2 separate regions of the Homo sapiens genome follow, and region 2 is linked to region 1. The links come from fine-mapping of genetic effects on gene expression. Tissue or cell type: whole blood. Region 1 holds a variant in brackets; the other region holds the start of a gene. All regions are shown on one strand. Distances are between the middles of the regions.

Region 1 (5,552 bases):
GAATAAACTCCTACGAAAGCCCTACATTGAGCTCCAATCTGCTCGGGGTGGGACGGGTGCTTCCCACACCTCTGGGAGAAGGCTGCAGCCACCTGGGGGTCCCAGGGTGGTGGGGGTGGCAGGTGGTACCACAGCTCTGAGAGCAGATACCAGGGGTACTAAGAGGTGCTTAGACAAGGGCTGGTGCCCGGCCCAGGGTGCCCAGCGGGGCCATGCCATGGCAGATAAAGCTCAGGACGTCAAAAACTCACCATGGACCCCAAGGCAGAAACCAAGAACTGTCTGCAGGCAAATAAGCACCCAGCACCCATCCTGGCTGCCGGTGCCCCGTACCCTGTATTTATTCTTTTAACAATAACAAAAGCCATTTATTTATTCCATCTAGAAAGGAAACCCTGTTTCAGTCCCCTCTCTCTGGCTGTTCTGTTACTTTCCTTCCACCTGTGCCCTCCCTGGGATATGTATGCCTCGCCCGCCCTCCCTGGGCACATGTGCACACGTGCCCAGGCACAAGTATGTCTCTGGGTCCCTTGCCCTGCAGTTTCCAGGGGGCTCTGCTCCAAGTTCCCTAGCGGGCCCCTCAGGGAGAAATAGCCTCACGTGCAATCTGGGTGTCTTCGGGGGCCCGTCTGGAAGGGCTGCAGCAATTCCCCTGTGTCTCCAGGTAACCAGCTAACTCTTGGGCTCAGGCACCCTTGCACAGGGTTGCATTTCTTTAGTCTTCTGTGGGTCTTTTGATGTGGGTTTGATTTTGCTTTTGCTTTTCTAGCTGAGATTTCCCAAGTGCATCCTCAGAAGCTCTGGGTGTGCCAGAGGACCCCCAGAACTAAGAAGGGAGGGCGAGTGGGTCTCCATTCCCCGAGAAGCCGGGGGCAGGGTGGGATGGGGAAGACCAGGAGCAGAGTCGAGCCTCACAGAAGCCAGCGCGGGTCTCTGCTCAGCACCCCAGCCGGGGCTCTGGACCCAGGGTAACAGCCCCAGTTCATCCCAACCCCTCTCAGAGCCTCAAGAGGGGTAGCTCGGCTGCCGGAAGAGAGGGGTGCCCTATCCCTGGCAACCCCTCCACGTAGCGTACCCCAGCACCTGCCACCGCCTTTGCCATTTCTTTGAGCTTGAAGTTAACTCTCTTAGAGTCTAACTTTGGTTCATTTCTGCACAGGTACAATAGATGACTTTATTTGTTTAAAATGTTTAATATATATACATACATATATATATATTTGTCTGTAAGAATTATGTTTTAAACAGCTGCTGTAGAGTACCTTTTTTTAAGTAAATCTTACAGTGGAGTATATTTTTTAAAGCACAAAATTGGTGCCAAGACTGGGTGAGAAATGTACATTACCCCCTTATTATTTTGACGGTTTTTTTTTTCGGGGCAGGGGACCTTACCTGTAAGACTTTTAAAGATTTTCCTCCCTCCTGTTTCAGGTGGGTCACATTCTGATGAATGTTTCCCTTGTACAGATCCCAGCTTATGGCCTTGACCCAGCCGTCCTCACAGATGCCGGGTGACCCTCTAGCTCTCTCTGCATCTCCCACCCCCCGACACCCTGGGACCCTCGACCCCACCCTTCTTTCCTACCAGCCCAGAGCCTTGTGGCTTGTACAGTTTTGAAACTCCCGTTCTATTTTATGATGGTTGATAATAGTCAGTAACCTAATAAAGGAACGTTTGTTAAAATATCAAACCATTTTTGAATTCCTCGTTTGTGCCTCGGGGGAGGGGAAAGAGACATAGCTGACCCCTCCTGGGTCCAGCCAGCTCCACGGCCCACAGTTTTCAGCAGATGATGGGCTGACTCCCTACCACCCCTTGGCAGAGGGTGGGATGCCAGGCAAAGCCCCAGACAGAGAAGGAGAAGGAGAGTCCTGGAGGGAGGACCCCAGAACAGCCTCATCCCCATTTCAGAAGTTCCTCAGCCTGGCAGCCCAAGCTGCAGAAACTTGCCAAGTCTAACAGACAGTGATTCTGTGCCTTCGTGAGCGCATCAGGTTGGTTTGTGGGGTTGTAGAACTTGAGTTGACCGTGGGCTTTTTAGGAGCAGAGTGTGAGCCATTGTGGGCGTCCTCAGAGTCCAGGCTCTAGGGGAAGGAGCAGGTCCTTCATTCGTCTTTGTGTCCCCTGGGGCTGAGTGCACGGTGATGTTTGCTGAACTGTTGCAGAGTGAACTTGTTCTGCTAGCCATGTGGGCAGAGCCCCCGACAGAAAGGACAGGAAACTCTGGCTTATTTAGGGGATCAATGGGTGATAAAATGACAGTCAAGAAATTTACTAAGATGTGATCACGTGTCACGGCTAGTTTCCAAAGAATTAGCAAGAGCACATTAAGCTTGCGGTGGGGACGCTTCATTCTGAAGGCGTGTTGGGACCTGATAGTGCCGTGAAAAGTGCCTGGCCTGAGGGCCCAAGATCCCTGGGCCCAAAGACCCATGTTCCTTTCTCTAAGAGCCTCCTGACCAGCTATCCTCAGACCACACACATCAGCAGCATCTGGGAGGGGGGTTGTGAAAATGCAGATTCCAGGGCCCCACCTGAGATGTACCAAGTCAACACTTCTAGGGCCAGGCCCAGGAATATGCATTTCCTCAACTCCCTAGGTGACCTTGCCTAAGAGAGTTTGCACACCACTATTTGTGACAGTGTCAGCTGTTTTGCAAAGTTGCTGGGTAGAGGGAAATTATTCCATGGTGTCGGTGGGTTGGCCCAATGAGGAGCGCATGCGCTCCTGAGTCAGACCTGGATTCAAATACTGGCTTTGTGGCCTTGGACGAGCCTCCGGAAAACAGCAGTCACTGTAGTGTAGTACCTATCTCACAGGAGGATAGCAAGGGTAAGATGAGGCTTTCCGAACAGGACCTGGAGTCTTAGCGAGTGTGCAAACAAATGCTTTAAAAGCTCCTGCATTTCTGGAAAATGGCAGTTTCTGGGTTGCGACTTTGTCTCTAAGAATGGACCAGATGCTCGGGCGCGGTGGCTCACGCCTGTAATCCCAGCACTTTGGGAGGCCGAGGCGGGCGGATCACAAGGTCAAGAGATCGAGACCATCCTGGCCAACATGGTGAAACCCCATCTCTACTAAAAATACAAAAATTAGC[T/C]GGGCATGGTGGTGCGTGCCTGTAGTCCCAGCTGCTCAGGAGGCTAAGGCAGGAGAATGGCATGAACCTGAGAGGCGGAGGCTGCAGTGAGCCGAGATCGCACCACTGCACTCCAGCCTGGGCTACAGAGCGAGACTCTGTCCCCTCCAAAAAAAGAATGGACCAGACATTCCTAAACCAACTTCCTGATAATGATCTTCCTTCCCAGGTAAAGTCTCCAAAGGTCAAGGTGGGTATTGGGAAGAGGGTCCCCTAGATGCCTTTCCCAGATGCGGTTGGATGAAAGGGGTGGTGTAAAATGATTTTCAGGTTGGAGTTCATGTCTGGGTTGCAGTTGGAACTCCGCTTCCTTTGAAGGGGGCAGCAGGGGAGGAGTGGGGTTGGGGTCAGGCGCTGGGGGCGGGGGGAGGCACAGGGAAAAATCAGGGCCCTTGTGCTGCCAGGAGACTTCTCGGGGAGTAGGGTTTTGTGCCGAAGGGAGTGGGATTAATAAAACCATCTGTGCAGACTTGGCCCATGTGGTTGTAATTAATCCCCTGCCTTCAAGCAGGTAGCAGACTCTCAGGGCTTGGCCATAGATGGGAAGAGTCCTCCCGTCCCCACCCTTCAGCACGAAGCTTCCCTCCCGCCTTCTCCGCTCCTCGACGAGATGAGGAATGTGGAATTTACTGAACCATAAACTATGCCGGGGGAGCTGGGGAGGGGGCCGAAGACAGAGCAATTAGTTCATGCTCCAGTCCAGACACCCAAACATGGTTGGATTCCAGCTGCAAGGAATATTTGAAATAAATGAGCTGCCCAGGGCCAGGAGTTTGCTGTGTTTTCTGTATGGGGCCATGGCAACCAGGGAGGAAATCGTGAGCTAGGGACTGGGCTCTAGAGTCAACAAATGATGTCCTGGCCCAGCAAATGCAGAGGAAGCCGCTCATGGCTCTCCTCGGGTTTCTTGAGACTCAGCTGCTGGCAGGCAGGACTCGGGCCGACCATCTCCCTGGTGCACTCAGACCGTGGTGTTCTCTCCTGGGTTCTGATTTTTTTTTTTTTTTTTGGTAAGAAAAGAGAAAACTAACTCTTCTCTGGAACCTTTCTTCCTGGGCCAGAGAACAGCTGCTGCTGTTGCTGCCGGGCTGATAATGATTTTCCTGGGTAGAGGAATATTCTCCGTGGAAAAGCTCAGGCTGAGGGCAGCTAGCTAGACAGAGGTGGCACTGACCTTGTGCAGGGTTTGTCTTCCTGCCCCACCCCAATTGCAGCCTCTACTGGGTCTGCTTTATAGGCAGGAAAGGCAAAGGTCTCCTCCAGCTCCCTTCCCTGGTGGCGTTTGGGGGTGAACCTTACAGCTGTCCCCAAAGATGTGTCTTACAAGTGCATGTGAGTACCAGGACCGAATCGGGGATTTCACCCTGAAGTTCACAGATGCTCCCTGCATCTGAATCGCCCGGAGGAACCTAGGGGAGGAAAGCAAAATCCTGGTAAGCTTGATATGCAATAGGATGGGCCTGCGAATAGGCATCTTCGAACACCCATAGATGACGCAGATAACATTGTCCTGAAGGTTGCTGGGGTCCCAGCGTTACATGCAGAGTTGCGTCCATGCAGAGTTGCATGCAGTTACATGCAGAGCTGCACCTATGCAGACCTCTCTGCTGTATCCCCATGGTCCTTCAGAGCCCTGCCAGGGGCTGAGACCCACAGAAGCTTGGAGACCACGGGTATAGAAGATTCTGTTCGCGTGGCCCTCCCAGCTCTCTCTGCTCTGTGTCTCAGAGCACAGGCAGTCCCCGAGCTGCCGATCAAGGCATCAACGCCAGGCACAAAAACTTCTCACCCAGGCACAAAAGTGCTCATCTTAGGAATGAACAAAGTCGGTCCAAGGGAGAAATACTGGAGTCCAGGCAGGGAAACCTTGAGGGCTATCCTTCAGCCTCAGTTTCCCTAAGGAAATTAGACCCTGGAAAGCTGAACCAGGAGCTTGGAGACAACATTCGGGTCTACAAGCCACGGCCCATGCAAGACCCTTCCAGCAGGGCTATCCCCATGGGAGCTGCTCATGGGTATTTCCCACAACCTCAGCACAGCATGTAGGGACAAGGGCCTCATCAACCCAGGACTGTGCCTCTCAGAGCATGTCTTCCTCTCTCTTTACAGCCTAAGAAGCAAACATTTTAATCCCTCTCCCACCTACATCCCTGGGCCCTACCTTTCGAAAGATGTTCAGCTTTGCCAGTGATTTCTGTTCAGCAAAGTGGGGCCGCCAGGGTTTCTGATGTCCACAGGTGGAATCAACTCCAGTGGAAAAGGAACCTCACCTTCCAGGCTGGCCATGTGTGGAGGCTGAGTGACTGGGGAGAAGGGGCCTGGCTTCAGGACTGACGCCTGGCTTCCCACTTCCTGTCCAGGATGGTAGCTTTAAAGCCTGGAGCCTTGGCGTCTCCATCTGTGAAATGGGAACA
Region 2 (5,552 bases), 78 kb before region 1:
AGCTGATGAATAGCAGAGCTGGGGGTTGCATTGGGTTTGTCTATTACCAAATCCTTTGCACATTTGCTCCAATCAGCAAAAGGGATTCAGAGAAGATGGCAGCCTTTAACACTTGTGAGGGCAGCAGGATTCTGTGCTAAGAGCTCAAGGCTCAGAACCATCATCAGAAAAAGCAGCTGATGCTAATTCACCATCTATCAAGTTTCTCTTCACCATTTCCCGGAGACAGATTAAAGACATGAGCAAATTGTGCTGATGCAAGTGATAAAATGTGTGTGGGGGTGGGGTGGAGTTGGGGAGGGGGTTGGGGATGACACCACTGGGAGCCCAGAGCCACCTCCCTCCCGACTCACCCCTGCAGTACACAGATCTTTGTATAAGTCCTGAGTCACCCTTCAAATTTTTGGATAGTATCTATCAGCTTATGTCACAATGTTGCAAGATTATGTATCTTTTTTTAACAAACAATAGTATCAGCATGCTAGGGTGATTCTGAGCCCTTCTGACACATAAACTGGCTTCCAGGATTGCTCAACATTGCCCCATGCTGCAGCAGTCACTGCCGGCTGACCAGCCTTCCATCATCCGGCCAACCTGCCCAGCGTCCTGGAGGAGAGAAGGCCCACTCCCCAGGGGTTCTTCTGGGAAATTTAGGTCAGCAGGGTCTAATTATTCAACTGGATCAAGAGCTGAGATTTCCAGATTAACGCCGAAGGGGGGTGGGGTGGGGGTGCTGAAGACTTTTCATCAGGAACTGTCTTTCAGGGCCTTAAACATCAAAGCTGGGTCTCTAGCTCCAAAGTGCCCCAGTCTGCCCTGGAAGCTTCCCAGATGTTAAGAGGTGAGGCTTGGTGGAGTTCCTCTTAGCAAAGCTGACAACACCATGGCCCCAGGCCACGTGGCCGTAGCACCAGCCCCATGAGATGCCAGTGTCTGGTAGATGCCACACACACAGTGAATAATCCACCAAACAGGGCTACTCTCCCAAGGAGAAATGAACCCATCAGAGGCAGCTGTGATTTTCAGCAATGACTGACGTGGGCTGCACCCCATGGGCCTGTCCCAGAGGCTCTCACCAGTCTCCCAAGTAAACAACAGTTCTCAAACTGCAGAGTGGCTGGAGGGGGTCATATGCTCTTTTAAAATTATTATTACCTTTTTTTTCTTTTTTTTTGAGATGGAGTCTCGCTCTGTTGCCCAGGCTGGAGTGCAGTGGTGCGATGTCGGCTCACTGCAACCTCTGCCTCCTGGGTTCAAGAGATTCTCCTGCCTCAGCCTCCCGAGTAGCTGGGATCGCAGGCACGTACCACCACACCCAGCTAATTTTTGCATTTTCAGTAGAGATGGAGTGTTGCCATGTTGGCCAGGCTGGTCCTGAACTTCTTTTTTTTTTTTTTTTTTTTTTTTTGTGAGACGGAGTCTCGCTCTGTCACCTGGGCTGGAGTGCAGTGGCGCAATCTCGGCTCACTGCAATCTCTGCCTCCCGGGTTCACACCATTCTCCTGCCTCAGCCTCCCAAGTAGCTGGGACTTACAGATGCCCGCCACCACGCCTGGCTAATTTTTTATATTTGTAGTAGTGACGGGTTTCATCGTGTTAGCCAGGATGGTCTCCATCTCCTGACCTCGTGATCCGCCCGCCTCGACCTCCCAAAGTGCTGGGATTACAGGTGTGAGCCACCAAGCCCAGCCTGGTCCTGAACTTCTGACCTCAGGTGATCCACCTGCCTCAGCCTCCCAAAGCGCTGGGATTACAGGTGTGAGCCATCATGCCCGGCCAATTATTATTATTATTATTTAATTTTTGTGCAGAGTCTGTGTCTTGCTCTGTTGCCCGGGCTGCTCTTGAACTCCTGGGCTTAAGTGATCTGCCTGCCTCAGCCACCCAAAGTGTGGGGATTAAGGGCGTGAGAGCCACCACCTCCAGCCTCAAGTGATCTTTTAAATGGGAAGCACCCCTAAGCTGCTGGCCATGGCTGCCCACCTGACTAGTCTGGGTTCAACATTCCTAAACCGCTGGCACCTGGAAAGTCAGAATGCCCACTCAGGCCCGCCCAGCCCAGGGCAGTTGGTTGAGTCTCCGTAATCCTATTCTGAGTTCAAACAAAGCTAAACCAAACTGATTTTCAGCACCGTAAAATGAGAGACATCAAACTTTGTAATCTCACAGTTCAATTGGGTTCCAAGCTCTGGACAGCTGGCCTCGGGCCAGGCACTGTTTCCTCGCCTTTACAGTGAGTGTGTCATTAGTCCCACCCTCACTGTACTGGGTTATGGTAAAGACACAGTAACTACGGAAGCCCCGCTATTTGTTTCGGCTCCCCCAGAAAGGCTAACTCCTCACCGTTTTCAATGGACACTACACAGCGAGGGGTGGGGAATGCCAGGAGATTTTGCTCTCAAAACAGCAAAGTCTTTAAAATCTTCCCAGTCCCAAGTGACTGCTCTGTTCGGGGAAGGGGGAGGAAAATTCCTTGAACGAGCTAGAGCCACAGGACAAGTCCCCAGAGGCTGGGACCTGTTCAGGGAGCAGCCCTGCGGATGCCAGGTGCCCGCGCCCTCAGGGTCTCGAGGTCCGAGGCCCCCGTCCCCGTGGGCACCGAAACGCGAGCGGCCGAAACAGCGCTGCAGGAGGCTCCCTGGACCCCCGGCGGCTGCCCACTCGTCCCCGCTGGGCACTTCAGAGGAGGCCGGCGAGGCCTTGCTCGGGGTTCCTGGGACAACCCCACTCTCCGCGAAGATTTCTCCTTCTCGTAAGACCCCCGCCCCCACTCCAGCCTCCCACGGCTGCAACCCAGGCCCTGCGCCACGCGTTTCCCAAAGACGCCTCCGGAGGGACCCGAGCTTCGGGCCGGCAACACCAGGGCGGCGGCTCGGGAGAGGGCTGCGGACTAAGGGGGCGGAGGGGGCGGCCGAACCAGCGCCGGGCTGACGCGCCCCGCGCCCCGCGCCCCGCGCCCCCGGCCTTCCCTGCAGTGCTGAGTGGTCCGTGCGCCCGAGGTCGGGGGCGGGGCGGGGCGGGGCGGGGCAGGGACGGCCCCGCCCACCGGCGCTTTTCTCTTTTTTTTCACTTTAAAGCCGTCGGTTGCTTTTTCTCCTCCGCACAGAAGTCGCGCTCGGGCAGCCTGCGCGCTCGCAGCAGGAACCAGGCTCCAGGCGCCGGCGCCGGGGCCGGGGCCGCGGGGAGGAGGCGACTTCGCTCCCTGCGGCGGGCGCGGCCCGGGCGCCCGAGCCTCCTCGGCCTTGGAGAGCAGCGGCGGCGGCGGCACCCCGGGCGCGGTAGGCGGCGCGGGGCACCTGGGACCCCGATGGGTGGGCGACCGGCCCGGGAGGGGGAGGCGCGGGGGGCCGGGCGAGGGCGGACGCGGGGATCGCGCCGCTGGGGGACCGAGTGGGTGGCGCGGGGCCGGGCGCGGGGGAGCGGGTGGAGTACGGGATGGGGACTCGGGGCGCGGCCCCTCCCGCGGTGGCTCCGGGGGCGCCTCCCTCGCCGCGGCTCCTGGGAGAGGGGCCCAGGCCCGCCCCGCGCTGCCGCCGCTGCAGGGCAGGGGGTCCCGGGGCGAGGCGCGGCGGGGGTCTCGGGGCGCGGGGACCGTCGCAACGAGTTGCGGTCCCGAGGAGGGGCTGGGGCGCTCCGGGGCCGCCGACCCGTCCCCCCTTTAGCCCGGGGAAAGCGGGACCCCGCTCGGCTGAGTTAGTTTCGCTTTTCCCGCCAGTCCGAGTCGGGATTGGCGGCGCGGCCCGGTCCCCCGTCGGGGCGCCCCCACCCTCCCGCAGCGCCTCCCCCAGGGAGCCTGCCGGGGACACCCGAGCGCCGCCCTCCCCGCCGCCCCGGAGCCGCCGCGGCTTCTCCCAGCAGCGGAGGGAGAGCCGGAGGGTTGTCAGGAAATCGATTAAATCAGAAAAACAAGGGCGGCCTGGGCCCGCGGGAGGAACCGCGGATGGGTCACCGTCCCCGGGCGTGTACTGGGCTCGGTGGCGTCCAGGTTCCGGTGAGGACGGGACGGCCCCGAGAGGAGGGTGCGGGTCTGCAGGAAGAGCGGGTGTCTCTGAGAGTGCATCTGCGTGTGTGTTTGTGCATGTCCTTGTGAATATGTGCCTGCGTATGAGTGTGTCTGTGTGTTCATGTGGGTGTGTGTGTGAGTGTGTCTCTAAGTGCATCTGTGTATTTATGTGCCTCTGAGTGTGTGTGTGAGTCTGTGTGTCTGTCAATGTGTGCCTGAGACTCTAAGTGACTGTGTGTGTGTGTGTGTGTCTGAGTGCGTCTTTGTGTATTTGTGTGTGCCTCTCTGTGTATGTCTGTGTGTCTTTGTGTGTGTCTGTGTGTGAGTGTGTATGTGTCTTTGGGTGTGTGTCTCTGCAAGTTTGTGTCTCTGAGTGTCTGTCTCTGCAAATGTGTGTCTCTGTGTCTTTGTGTCTGTGTGTGTCTTTGCGTGTGTGTGTCTTTGTGTCTCTTTGTGTGTCCACACGTGTCTCTGTGTCTGTCTCTGTGTCTGTGTCTCTGAGTGCGTCTGTGTATGTGTGAGTGTCTGTGTGTCTCCAAGTGTGTGTCTGTGTGTCTTTGTGTGTGTTTCTCTGTGAGTGTGTGTGGGGACCATCCAGGGGGCCCTCTGGTTCCTAGGTACTGCTCCTCATGGTGATTTCTTTACTTGGTTCTGGATAGCCGGGCATGCTGGGCCACAGACACCCCACTAGGCAAGCCCTGCTGGTGCCCCCGAGGAGAGCGCAGGCTCTTCCTCTCTCCATTTCTCTGAAAATGAACTACACAGTTTGGGGGTGAGTTGGCAGGGGCTGCTTCCTGAGTGAGTAATATTTAATTAAACACTCCAGTCTGTAGCATCAGAAACTGGTCATGAGTTGAGTTTTAACAGGTGTTCATGGTAAAAGCGCCATCCCTGGTGACTAAGGTTTGATGTCCTTGGAAGAATTTTCTCGTTGGGGGGGCTGGGCCCACAACTTCATTTCTCATCGTGGGGTGTGAGGAGAACAGCAAGCAAGGAAGGGGATGGGGGCCTCTCCCTTCTGCCCTGTCCCCCTCCTCAGACCCCCCTCCCAGTGGTGGAAAGCCCTGGGCTAAGCATGGGCAGCACAGGTGGTCTCTCCACACTGAGGAATTTTGGAGTCAGGGAAGTCCTGTCTTACTGTCTAGGCCAGCCTGTCCTAGAGAGGCCCAGAGAGGGCGGTTCACTTACCCAGACTGCACAGCCAGGGCTGTGGACCAAGACTCCCCAGTCCTGAAACTGTTGCTCTTGGTTACTGTCCCCAGCACTGAGGTCATGGGCCAGGCACTTCGTGTCTCCCCAGCTGTGAAGTGATGGGCTGGATTAGATCATTTAAAGCACTCCTGCTCTCTTACAGCTGCTTTTCTTCTGCAGGGAGCACTTTACCCAGTAGATGGAGTGTGTGTGTGTGTGTGAGAGTGTGAGTGTGTGTGTGTGTGTGTGTGTGTGCGCGCGTGCGGTTGGGGAGGTGTGGAGTGGACTAAGGCAATCACTTTACAAGTCTTCCTTTTCCAGTCTGGCTACCACCCTAGCAGCAGAGAAAACAAAAGCA

What was found. PIP is the estimated chance that this variant, and not a neighbour inherited with it, causes the effect.
Region 2: SPSB1 starts here. The variant in region 1 is fine-mapped to the expression of SPSB1 in whole blood (INTERVAL, PIP 0.94).

The regions. Positions count from the first base shown.
Region 1 is chr1:9,367,842-9,373,393 of GRCh38, forward strand. It overlaps SPSB1 (splA/ryanodine receptor domain and SOCS box containing 1), which reads left to right. Exons shown (of 3, transcript NM_025106.4): 3 at 1-1,691. Among named protein-coding and RNA genes, the nearest start is that of LINC02606, 58 kb to the right of the region's middle. RefSeq lists an enhancer at 3,227-4,934. The variant T/C (reference allele first, on the strand shown) is at 3,100.
Region 2 is chr1:9,289,794-9,295,345 of GRCh38, forward strand. SPSB1 (splA/ryanodine receptor domain and SOCS box containing 1) reads left to right here and starts at 3,101. Exons shown (of 3, transcript NM_025106.4): 1 at 3,101-3,278. RefSeq lists silencers at 2,766-2,935, 2,986-3,065, 3,136-3,205, 3,746-4,035.